Regions from separate parts of the Homo sapiens genome. Here all the other regions are reported to be linked to region 1. Evidence: microRNA targets listed by miRTarBase, many of them from high-throughput screens and not tested one by one. Region 1 holds a microRNA gene; each other region holds the end of a gene's coding sequence.
Evidence for each region. The annotated mature microRNA hsa-miR-7847-3p reads CGUGGAGGACGAGGAGGAGGC and lies in region 1 at 1,762-1,782, shown strand. An mRNA with a match to its seed (bases 2 to 7 or 8) in the 3' UTR can be bound and repressed. Matches are read on the target gene's strand: a 7mer-m8 pairs with bases 2 to 8, a 7mer-A1 pairs with bases 2 to 7 and ends in A, and an 8mer does both.

Region 2: miRTarBase lists ZNF609 as a target of hsa-miR-7847-3p. Seed matches in the 3' UTR shown: 7mer-m8 at 807-813.
Region 3: miRTarBase lists GMNN as a target of hsa-miR-7847-3p. Seed matches in the 3' UTR shown: 7mer-m8 at 369-375.
Region 4: the mRNA of C1orf174 is a reported target of hsa-miR-7847-3p. Seed matches in the 3' UTR shown: 7mer-m8 at 2,168-2,174.

Annotation. Positions count from the first base shown.
Region 1 is chr11:1,878,344-1,881,523 of GRCh38, forward strand. It overlaps MIR7847 (microRNA 7847), which reads left to right and starts at 1,702; the gene lies at 1,702-1,804. LSP1 (lymphocyte specific protein 1) reads left to right here. Exons shown (of 11, transcript NM_002339.3): 2 at 1,744-1,881; 3 at 3,089-3,180.
Region 2 is chr15:64,681,037-64,684,036 of GRCh38, forward strand. ZNF609 (zinc finger protein 609) reads left to right here. Exons shown (of 10, transcript NM_015042.2): 9 at 273-351; 10 at 656-3,000. The coding sequence ends at 346. Among named protein-coding and RNA genes, the nearest start is that of OAZ2, 21 kb to the right of the region's middle.
Region 3 is chr6:24,785,477-24,788,625 of GRCh38, forward strand. It overlaps GMNN (geminin DNA replication inhibitor), which reads left to right. Exons shown (of 7, transcript NM_015895.5): 7 at 162-623. The coding sequence ends at 323. Among named protein-coding and RNA genes, the nearest start is that of ARMH2, 12 kb to the right of the region's middle.
Region 4 is chr1:3,887,458-3,890,457 of GRCh38, forward strand. C1orf174 (chromosome 1 open reading frame 174) reads right to left here. Exons shown (of 4, transcript NM_207356.3): 4 at 1,676-2,616. The coding sequence ends at 2,503. Among named protein-coding and RNA genes, the nearest start is that of C1orf174, 11 kb to the right of the region's middle.

The DNA of each region.
Region 1 (3,180 bases):
GAGGCCGGCAGAAGCGGGAAGCTGGGCCTCATCTGCCCGGATGATGGGAGCCAGGTGTGGGGAATTAAGTGGCTTCCTCGGGGGCCGGGAGTTGAAGGCACTTCTGAGGAGCAGGACAGGCAGGCGGATTCGGGGGCGCGGGGGGCGGGGTGCACAGGCGGCTGGGTTTGCGTGGCTGGAGTCCCCTGTGGCTTCGGTGGGGGGAGTGGGCCTTGAACTCGGGCCTGTGGAAGGGCCTGGCTTTTGTCTGAGAGGCTTAGGGGAGACCTAGGAGAGATTAGATCACGCGCTGGCAGGGCTGTCTGGCCAGGGGACTGGGGCCCAGTGGGGATCAGGCTGCAGGGTCAGGCAGCGGCCACTGGCCGGGAAGAACTGAGACCCCAGTGGGGAGACCCCAGCCCTGCTCCCTGTTCTGGCCTGGGCTCCCTCCCTGGGTCTGGGATAATAAGCCCTGTAGGAGTGTAGAGACCCTGGACCCCCTCTCAGGCTCTAGGAGGGCGATGGGAGGCAGGGCCATGACAGCTGAGGCTGCGGTGTCTGCAGGACCTGGACCATCTGAGAGCTGCTGGGCCGGGGCTCTGATGCCCAGGTCCAGGCCAGCCTGTGCCTACCTCTGTCCCTGAGGGGGGCGCGTGGGACCCCAAGAAGCCATGGTTTCAGGCTCTGAGGGCAGAAGCACTCCCTTACCTCAGTTTCCCCATTTTTGAAATGGCTCAATCGGCTGGGTGCGGTGGCTCATCCCTGTAATCCCACCACCTTGGGAGGCTGAGGCGGGCGGATCACCTGAGGTCGGGAGTTCAGGACCAGCCTGACCAACATGGAGAAACCCTGTCTCTACTAAAAAATACAAAATTAGCCGGGTATGGTGGTGCATGCCTGTAATCCCAGCTACTCAGGAGGCTGAGGCAGGAGAATCGCTTGAACCCAGGAGGCGGAGGTTGTGGTGAGCCCAGATCACACCATTGCACTCCAGCCTGGGCAACAAGAGTGAAACTCCGTCTCAAACAAACAAACAAAAGAAACAGCTCAGAGAGACTCCGCAGAGGGCTCTGAAATAAGGATGGGGTGGGGTTGGGTGAGCCGACCCTGTAAGGTGCCCCCAGCTATGGGGTTAGGCCCAGGCAGGACCCATGAGTCTGCGGAGCTTCTGTGAGCGGGGCTGGTGGTGGGACAGGAGGTGTCCTGCCTGGACGTGCTCAGGCCCTCCTTTCCTCAGCCTTCGACCTCCCCTTTCTCCAACACGCCCTGCCTTTGGGGTGCAGGAGGGAGCACCCGCAGGTGGGGTGGAGGTGCCGCCTGGCGGTGGGCTGCGGCCAGTCTCCCTGGACTCCAGTATCTTCTTCCTGGGCCCTCCAGGGTCACCTGGGTCTAGGTCCTGGTTCTACTTAGGGAGGGAGGCAGGCTGGGAGAGGGGGACAGAGGGCCTTTTGTCCTGTCCTTGAGTTTCTTCAGGCTTGAATGGGCCTTGGAGTCCCACCTTCATCCCCACAGGGCACAGGGGTGCCCAGATCCTCACAGGGCCCCAGGACCCTCGCCTGGGCCAGAGGGCACCTCATGACCACGTGGGCAGCCTCTATTTAAAGATGGACAAGGTGAGGCCTGAGGGCCGGCCTGGGACTGACCTCGTGGACAGGGCTGCCTGCACCGTGTGGCCCCAGCAAGGCCTGTGTAGATGGGAGGAATGGGTGCAAAACAGCACCTGTGTCGGCTGTGGCGTGACTGTCCCTCTGTGTCCCCCACTAGGCCCACTGCTCAGTGGAGCGTGGAGGACGAGGAGGAGGCCGTCCACGAGCAATGCCAGCATGAGAGAGACAGGCAGCTTCAGGCCCAGGACGAGGAGGGAGGCGGCCATGTCCCCGAGCGGCCGAAGCAGGAGATGCTGTGAGCAGCCCCATAACGCGTGCCTGGGCTCTAGCCCCTATCCGTGTACCCTGGGGCCTGGGCAGAGGGGGAGGTCAAGGGCCTGGGCTTGGGGGTTCCAGTGCAGGATGAGAGCGAGGAAGGGCCCCCAGGAGCAGGCGTGGGAGTGGGTGAGTGCTCCTGGGGCGAGGGTGGCCACAGCCCTAGAGGAGGGTCTGCCAATACCTGGCTGCCTCCTGGGCGCTGACCCAGGCTCTGTGTCCGTGCCCTGGCCCTTGCTCGGACCGCCTCTGACCCCAGCCACGCAGCCTGGCCGAGCCCCCCACCAGACTCCCCCGCCAGTGACTCACAGAGCCACGTCCAACTTGGCGGCCAGGCTGGCTTGCTTCCTCCTTGGGCCCAGGAGGCCTCCGCGGCTGGGCTGGGCTGTTTTTCCAATAATGCTTCCCTTCCTTCTGGCCTCTTTTGTTCCATTTTCTCCAAGTCAGCAGCCTTGGGCAGAGTGGGGTTCAGCGGTCACCATAGTCAGGCCCTTGGCCACCCCCACCAAGGGCCCCAGCTATCCAGGGGCTCCCCCTGCCACATGGGAGGCCTGAGAAGTCGGGGCTTAGGAGGACCTCATGTAGGGTCCTCATGTGGGGACCAGGGCAGCCCTTGGGGAGCCCCAGGATGATGGGGGAGGCACAGCCCTGCCCTAGGGAGCCCCAGACTGATGGGGGAAGCACAGCCCTGCTGTTAGGGAGCCACAGGCTGACGGGGGAGGCCCAGCCCTGCCCTAGCGAGTCCCAGAGTGATGGGGGAGGCACAGCCCTGCTCTTAGGGAGCCACAGGCTGACAGGGGAGGCACAGCCCTGTCCTCAGGGAGCCCTACACTGATCGAAGAGGCACAGCCTTACCCTCAGGGAGCCCCAAACTGATGAGGGAGGCATAGCCCTGCCCTCAGGTAGCCCCAGGCTGATGGAGGAGGCATAGCCCTGCTGAGCCTCAAGGAGTCCTGGACTGATGGAGGAAGCACAGTTCTCAGGCTGCCCCAGAACTGACGGGGGAGGCATAGCCCTGCCCTCAGGTATTCTGACCACAGGAGACACAGCCCAGAGCCAGCTCTGTGGCAGACAGGGTCTCCCACACTTGGAGTCCAGGGCCTGAGCGGGCGCCGTGAGGTGAGTGTGGGCCCTGGGCAGAGGAGGCAGCAGCCGCCCAGGCCTAAGCTCCCCCCTGCTACCCTCAGCCTCAGCCTGAAGCCCTCGGAGGCCCCTGAACTGGATGAGGACGAGGGCTTTGGCGACTGGTCCCAGAGGCCAGAGCAGCGGCAGCAGCACG
Region 2 (3,000 bases), not on the chromosome of region 1:
AAGCATATGATATTTATTCCTCCCTTGGAGTTTGGGGACTCTTAAATTCCTCCAGAATACTGGCCTTGATAGTCAGAAGAATATGGAACAGGTGTTCCCCAAAGGCAAAGAGAAACAATCAGCTGAGAAATAGAGCCTTATTATCTATCTCCAGCAAATATATCTGGCTGAGTATCAGATTTTTTTTTCTGTCAGCACCCCAAAACTCAGGGAAAAAGATTAATGGAAGGTTTCTGTGAGTGCTACACTAACATGTTCTCCTGCTTATTCAGGGCTTTCTTCTACAGCCATTGTTGCCAGCCAACAAGGCTCAACTCCCTCACTCTACCCACCCCCCAGGAGGTGAGAATGGTAAGTCACTTTTATTAATTTGGGGCAACACATAAAGCCGGGATAGTTGCTACCTGGATCACAGAATCCCTAGGTGAGAAATAGCTATGAGGGGTCAGCAGTCTGGAATCCATGGAACCCTGGCCAAGCCTCTTGTACAAGAGTCTCCCGTGAAGCCATGTGCATCTGAGAGGACCTGTGGAACACAGTGTCCCCTAGGGACCAGTACTGGCCACTCCTACAATTCATTTTCTTGGAGTGCCACCTTGTGGTTTTTTTACCAACAGGCTGAGTGCCTGGTTATCTGTCCATGTTTCCCTTGCAGACACCAAGTGCCCGGATAAAGTCAGCTTCACGGGCCCGGACTGGCTTACCCAAGGAGGTGCTGAAGGTGCCGTTTAGACATCAGTTAAATGGTGTTGATCATCCTGTTTGCCGTTTCCACCATGACTGAAGGCAGACCCTTGGCTATCTCACCTCCACCAGACCTCCGGACTACCTGACCCTACCTCTTCCTCAGGAGCTGGAGAGCTGGTACTTAGCAAAAATATTTATTCTCTCAGCCACAGTTATGACTATTGTGGCCTCTGTGGAGATGAAGGCACGGGAAGCAACCAGGGGAACATGGCCTCAGCCCAGAGAAGCCACTGCTCTGTTCCCCAAGCCCTTGGTCTGCTGCTGGAGCAGTACCAGCCCCCCCGCCCACCAGGGAGGGACCCCCACCCCCAAGCACTGGGTAAGGTCTGAAGACAGCACAGCAGCCATACCCCTCACCATCATTACCACCATCACCAGATTCTGCATCTCCCTAGTGCTTTGCACCCTGGGAATTGGCAGCATGTGGAGGAACTAGAATCTCAGGAAAGAAATTGGGGGTTGTTTTCTACATAATTGTGAAAACAAGGTCTTCAAATGTGGAGACTTCTCCCCATTTACATGAGCACATATAAACGCTCACAACCTAGCCTGGAAAGGAAGACCAAGGCATCTGCCCCAACATGGCCTTGAGCTGCCTGTGAGGCAGGGGGCAGGGGTTCCAACACCAGCACAGGGCTCCCCAGGGACACTGGGAGCAAGCTGGTGCTGGAGCATGAATGACGTCTGTGAAGTAGAACCTGCGTCCCCACTAAGTCCTGCTGCTTCTTATTCCCCAACTCCTTGCCCTTTTCCCTTCCCTCCTAACCCCTTGGTGCCTTTCCCAGGGGGATCCCCACACTGGTCTTGCCTCTTCTTTTCCACTGCTTGGCTCTTAAGCCTCAGGCAGATAAACTAGTATTCCCCCCAGCTTGGGGAACCTTGGAGTCTGCCAGGTCACCTTAGGGCAAGGCCCAGAAGGCAGCCCCTGGGAGCACCCAGCAGTTCTTGGAGATGTCCTGTCATCTAGCCATCTGATATCTTCCTCATTTGAGGCCACAGATATATACAGCCCAATTCCTCTGTCTACAAGTACATGATTTTATATAGCTCAGTCTATAACCTCCATGTGGGCCAATATAAGCTGTGTTTCTTGGTAACACATATTTTGTTTGAGGGGCCACTGGCCATGGGAGGTTATTTGTTCCTTAGACCCTGGAATAACACATCCAAGCCATTACTTATTAGAGTCTCAGAATGTACTCAGTGGAGCTGTGCTTTGAGGCAGCCAACATTTCTCTGCTCTCCTTAGAAATGCAGTCTCCCAATGGAAGCTTTATACTCTTTGTACTGGGAAAGTGAGGATGATTTGGTAGCTTTATTGGGGTCATGTCTTCCCCAAGGTGTGGGGAGCTTAGCTTACTTGGCTTTTGAGGTATCATCCCTCTGTTCTCCCCTCCTATCTTTCCATGACCCTCTGGATTGAGAGAGAGAGATAAAGACTGACAGACACCAGTGTAGGCTGGAAAAGGGAGTGTGTGACCAGAGTGCCAAAAGTGACTAGGAGCAGGAACTTGGCTCCGACTCAGTTTGGAAAATGGGAAATAGGGGACAGTAAGCACAATGCCCAGTAGTAGTTGATTTCCAAGGACCCTGGAACCCTACACTTGAGAGGCTTAGGGTCACCATCTGCTCAAGAGGATCCCCTCTGATCTACAGGCCTTTTCCCTAGGTTTCTGCCTCCTCGTTTTTGTTCAAGTTGGGTTCTGAGTCCTCCCCAAAAACCATTGTTTTAGACCTCTTGGCAGGGCCCCAAAACAGCCTCCCTCATACCCATCATTCCCTCTGCCTTCTGCTGCCCTCATGGGCAGTGCTCTGAGCAGTGACCTCCCTTTCCTCCGTGGAAGTAGCTAGTGCAGACACCGTCATCCCACCCCACCTGAGTCACCCCAACCAAGAGGGTGACTGAATTTCAGCCTGATTATGCCCTCCTGGGGCTCCTGTGAGGTGGAGCCAAGGTTCCCTCTCTGTTCCTGTTTGTTTTTAAATATTGTTGTGTGTTTTGTATCTGTGGCACTGGCCTGCAGCATACTCTGTATATATTGTAAAGAAACCGTTAGGAGTAATTTTCTTTTGCATTGGGCAGGCATGGCCCTGCATTCCTGCCCTTTCCACTCATTCTGTAACACAGAGGACGAACTTCTGTATTAGCTGGGCAGCCTTGGGTTCTCCAGAAGAGAACAGGTTTTTCTTTTCCTTTTTAATTTTTCTTCTTAAACATTTGGCTCTTTGATCCTCATATCCAAGTCTCCCCTG
Region 3 (3,149 bases), not on the chromosome of region 1:
AGACTTTGATATAATACTGTTTATAAATGAATTTATTGAGGGGCAAGATGAAAAAAATCTCATAGCTATATCAGTATGCTATACGGGTCAGCTATATCAGTATGCTGATCAGCTTAGGTTTTAACATTTTTACAATAAATTATTGGTTTATTCTTTAAAAGAGACTGAATGGTGAACCTCTGGATAATTTTGAATCACTGGATAATCAGGAATTTGATTCTGAAGAAGAAACTGTTGAGGATTCTCTAGTGGAAGACTCAGAAATTGGCACGTGTGCTGAAGGAACTGTATCTTCCTCTACGGATGCAAAGCCATGTATATGAAATGCATTAATATTTGACTGTTGAGAATTTTACTGCCGAAGTTTACCTCCACTAGTTCTTTGTAGCAGAGTACATAACTACATAATGCCAACTCTGGAATCAAATTTCCTTGTTTGAATCCTGGGACCCTATTGCATTAAAGTACAAATACTATGTATTTTTAATCTATGATGGTTTATGTGAATAGGATTTTCTCAGTTGTCAGCCATGACTTATGTTTATTACTAAATAAACTTCAAACTCCTGTTGAACATTGTGTATAACTTAGAATAATGAAATATAAGGAGTATGTGTAGAAAATTTGTCTGTTTCTATGCTTTTATGTTGTTCTCTTTCCATTCTTTTGCTAACTACCTTGGAGGAGACAAGGAGAAAACGAACTTAAAGTATTTAGACTGAGATAGCTGAGGTTTTTAACTCCCAAACTTTGTTGTACCTCAAGCTCATTGTAGACACTATTGATATTAACAAGTTGTTTTTGGAATGGAGCATGAGAATCTATTTTCCAAAAGCTTTTCAAGTGAATCTGATTAGACAGTGAGAGGCCCAACTGGCTAGCAGGATCAGACTCTTCTTGGAAGCTTAAAATGATGGATGATGGTGATAATCCTCAAGAAACAAAGTGAGGAGTGGGTAGAAGTTTGACGGAAAAAATCAGGAATAGCTGAAAATTATGGAGCTTTTCTATTTCACATATTGGTATAGTGCAAAGTATGTAAATATTGAAGAATAAGAGTAGGGTCAGATTCATTAGGGATTTCCCATATATACTAAGTTTTGAAGGAGGAAAAGTACAAACTAGGGGTATGTAGCATTGGAACTGAAAAAGTTCTGTGAGAGGCATACAAGTAGTTTTGTATAAATTGGCAATAAAGAGCAATGTCATGCTTTTATTTTTTTTCCTTTGAGACGGAGTCTTGCTCTTGTTGCCCAGGCTGGAGTGCAATGGCATGATCTTGGCTCACTGCAACCTCTGCCTCCCTGGTTCAAGTGATTCTGCCTCAGCCTCCTGAGTAGCTGCGATTACAGGTGCCTGCCACCACACCTGGCTAGTTTTTGTATTTTTAGTAGAGCCGGGGTTTCACCATGTTGGCCAGGCTGGTCTCGAACTCCTGACCCCAAGTGATCCGCCCACCTCAGCCTCCCAAAGTGCTGGGATGACAGGTGTGAGGCACCACGCCTGGCCTCAAGCTTTTGAAAGGATTGTTTTAGGTAAGCATCCTTATAGAACCTTAATTTTCTCTCTCTGTCACCCAGGCGGGAGTGCAGGGGTGCAATCTCAGCTCACTTCAGCCTCCACCTGATGGGCGCAAGTCATCTTCCCACTTCAGCCTCCCAAGTAGCTGAGACTACAGGTGCGTGCCACCACACCTGGCTAATTTTTTATATAGACGGGGTTTCGCCATGTTGCCCAGGCTGGTCTTGAATTCCTGGCATCAAGCGATCCGCCTGCTTCGGCCTCCAGAGTGTTGGGATTACAGGCGTGAGCCACCGTGCCTGGCCTTAATTTTCTTTAATACTGAGATAAAGCCTACCTCATAGTGTTATCGTGAAGATTAAAACCTTTAGTGTCTAGGCTAAGTGTCTTAAAAATGGAAGCTATTATTAATCTATAACAACATTGTCCAGTAGAACTTATTGGGATGATGAGAATATCTGCTGTACAGTATGGTAGCCATTTCTGTGTGGCTGTTTAGCACTTGAAGTGTGGCTAGTGTGAATGAGGTATGGACATTTTAATTTAAGTCACTACAAGAAGCTAGTGGCAATTACGTTAGTGTGGCTCTGTGTGTTTCAGGTGTGGATCACTAGCCTAAAGATAGGATTAATAGGTAAATTAATTTTAAAGGAATTGAAGAATATTCTGGATTAGAGCATGAGGAGACTCAGTTGAGAGGCCTTTAGCATGGTTAAGAAAGAAAATAGGTAAGTAGAATAGGGACTTGACAAATAGAAAGTATTTTTGTAAAATGCCAGAATTTGATGGTGGGGAGCAAAAGGAGAGGGAATTGAAGGGGATTAAAAAACTAAGGTAGTAGCTAAAACCATAAAACTTCTAGATTATATAGAAAAGTTCTTAGTGACTTTGGGTTTGGCAGAGAGTTCTCAAATAGGACACAAAAAAGCATCAACTTCAAATTAAACGTTGTAAATTTTAAAAACTTTTTGAAAGACAAGCAAATGAAAAGGCAAGAACAGACTGGGGGAACATATTTGCAGAACATAGCCAACAAAGGATTTGTATCTATAAAGAACTAGGGTATGTATGAGATGGAAACTAAGTGCATGAAAAGATGCTCAACATTAGTCATTAAGGAAGTGCAAATTAAATGACAACCAGATACTGCTACATACCTTTCAGAATTGTTTTAAGTTTGAAAAATAAAAACAACTCCATCGAGTGTTAAGGATGTGAAACATCTGAAACCCTCCTGCAGTGGTGGTGGCAGTGCTAAATGCTACAACTGCTGTGGAAAAGTTGAACAATTCCTTAAAAGTTATACATACACATTTTATATGACTCAGCCATTCCACCCCTGGGTATTTACCCAAGAGAAACGAAAGCATATGTCCACATGAAGACTAGTTCACACATTTTCATAGCTTTATTTGTAATAGCCCAAATATCCATTGGTAACTGAGTGGATAAATTATGGTATAACTATACAGTGGAATACTATTTAGCAATAAAAAGGGGACAAAAATTGGTACACGCCACATGGACGAATCTCAATGTTGTGTGAAAGAAGCCAGGTAAATACATACTGTATGCTTCTATTTATTTAAAATCACAAAACTACAAAGTATAATGAGAAAGCAGATTAG
Region 4 (3,000 bases), not on the chromosome of region 1:
TTTTTAGTAGAGAGGGGGTTTCACCAGGTTAGCCAGGATGGTCTCGATCTCCTGACCTCATGATCCGCCCGCCTCAGCCTCCCAAAGTGCTGGCATTACAGGCGTGAGCCACCGCGCCCGGCCAGGTGCTGTTATTAATAGTTATTCATGCAGCAATCTGAAGTTGTACTTTATTTATTTATTTATTTTAGAGGCAGAGTCTCGCTCTGTTGCCCAGGCTGGAGTGCAATGGCGTGATCCCAGCTCACTGCAACCTCGGCTTCCTGGGTTCAAGTGATTCCCCTGCCTTAGCCTCCCAGGTAGCTGGGATTATAGGCGCCCACCACCACGCCCGGCTAATTTTTGTATTTTTAGTGGAGACGGGGTTTCACTATGTTGGCCAGGCTGTTCTCGAACTCCTGACCTCAGGTGATCTGCCTGCCTCAGCCTCTGAAAGTGTTGGGATTATAGGCGTGAGCCACTGTGCCCGGCAAAAGTTGTAAATTATTTTCCCTGGCTACCATAAAATGACTTTATAAGCCACATTTCCAAATTATAGTTTGTTGATCAATAAATCACAAAGTTATTCAAAACAGGTGAAAGTCACAGCTCATGAGAAAAGGATCACATTAGAAGTGGAGAATGACACCTTCAGGGAGGGCAGTGTTTGAATAGTAAAGAGCGGAAACACTTCTTACAGGGCACTTCAACTATATTTTGCTTCCAATTTATCTGTTATAGAAAATCCTTCCTGTGCTTCATAGGACATTTTCACAGGGTTAATTCTAGCTGCTCTTGTAATTAAACCAGAAACATATAAAAGCTCAAAACCAGCAAGACTCACTTGTTCCCTCATGAAAAGGCCCAGTCTTCCCACATCGCAGGCAACTTCTCCTTGTCCTTGGTCACCCGGGGACCCCAGCTTGCTCCTGGTTGGTCCACTCAGCTTCTATGTGCAGGTGGCGGCAGGAAGAGGCCATGGAGAGAGCACTCCCAATGGCTTGTCTCCACTGCCCTGGGCGAGAACACACGGTGAGGTGCTCCCTGACGCCGCTGGGGCTGGGGAATGCAGTTCTCGTCAGGCAGCTGCACACGGACCTCTCTATGGCCTGGAGGAGAGCATGGCCTTCGCTGGATGGCTGACCGTCTCCACCACACAGGATAGGAAAGCCCGACACTTCTGCAGCAAAGTGGGAGTGGAAGTACACTCGAGAGAAGGGAAGAGGCCCTGTCCCGGGGGCCTCGGTGGTTAACAGGTCTAAAAGATGGACCCGTGCCGGGCGTAGTGGCTCACGCCTGTCATCCCAGCACTGTGGGAGGCCGAGGCAGGCGGATCACCTGAGGCCAGGAGTTCGAGACCAGCCTGGCCAACATGGTGAAACCCCGTCTCTACTAAAAATACGAAAAATTAGCCAGGCATGGTGGTACATGCCTGTAATCCCAGCTACCTGGGAGGCTGAGCCTGGAGAATCGCTTGAACCCGGGAGGCAGAGGTTGCAGTGAGCCGAGATTGTGCCACTGCACTCCAGCCTGGGCAACAGAGTGAGACTCAGTCTCAGAAAAAAAAAAAAAAAAGATGGACCCAGCCTTATGAGCATTTGGGAGCATGAGACTGAGGCAGGATGTGTTTCCTCTACTCGGCTCCCAGGCATTGAGAAAGGAATCCGGTTTTACGAACATACGACTGCTTTCAAAATATTTTCAAAATATATTTTATTTCTTTCTTACATGTATTTTGCAAAATTTCCAAGGTAAACATTAGCTCCACATACAGAAATAAAAGAGTTCTTTAAGAACTAGCATTGAATTCATCACAAGAATCATCAAATTATGATAATGGAAAACAAACTTGCCTATGACCAAAGCTACTGAGCTGAAGTGAAGAGCTGTCTTTACAAAGATCCCTCTCATTAAGCCCACTGCCCTGCAGCTGACTCAAGCCATCATCATGTATGTACGTGTATAAGAAAGGACACTGGCCGGGCATGGTGGCTCGCGCCTGTAATCCCAGCACTTTGGGAGGCTGAGGCGGGCGTATCACGAGGTCAGGAGTTTGAGACCAGCCTGGCCAACGTGGAGAAACCCCCGTGTCTACTAATAATACAAAAACTAGCTGGGTGTGGTGGTGTATGCCTGTAATCCCAGCTACTCAGGAGGCTGAGGCAGGAGAATCACTTGAACCCAGGAGGTGGAGGTTGCAGTGAGCCGAGATTGCGCCATTGCACTCCAGCCTGGGCGACAAGAGAGAAACTCTGTCTCCAAGGAAAAAAAAAAAAAAAAAAAAAGAAAGGACATTGGCACAGTACAGCAGCTTTGCAACCTCAAAGATGGTTTGAGTTTTAGTTCCCATGAGTACATCCTCCACAGGTATTGGGTGCTTTGCACTATTGACTTAGATGGGTCAGTTCTGAAGTTTGATTAAGACATTCTCTTGGAGATACATTTTATATAAATCTTGTAATGTGCTAAATTGTCAAATTGTTAATGGTACTAAATACTCAAGGACATTATTTTGTATGGCCCCTACATTTCTGCATCATCGTCGTCGTCATCATCATCATCTTTGGCTCTGAAATGCATTTTTCTGAACTCTCGTCTGCTCATTGAAGGACAAGATGAAGACGCAGGTGGGAGGTCCTTAGTGGAGAAGAAAACATGACTTCAGTCATGAGCAATACATATCTGCACCCGCATTTGCAATGTGCCCCACCCAGCGGCTCTAGGGCTCGCAGAGCGCTCTTCCCTTTTAGACGTGTGAAAATGCCTGAGTCCCAGCACTCGCCTCTAGATGAGAACTTCCTCCCTACTGGGCTGATCGAGTAAAGAGAAGGAAAGGTGCTGGGTTCAAAACAAAAGAAATTAACAGCAAGCGCGGGGTGGATGTTCAAAAAAACCACAAACCTGATTTCATGGAAACACACCTTTCCCGAGAGCAGTGATTCTCAGCTCGGGAGATGCAGGGAGAGCCCCCAATTAGCCAACGGTTTCATTTTCTCCTCGTGGGTTAAAATGATTAGTTTA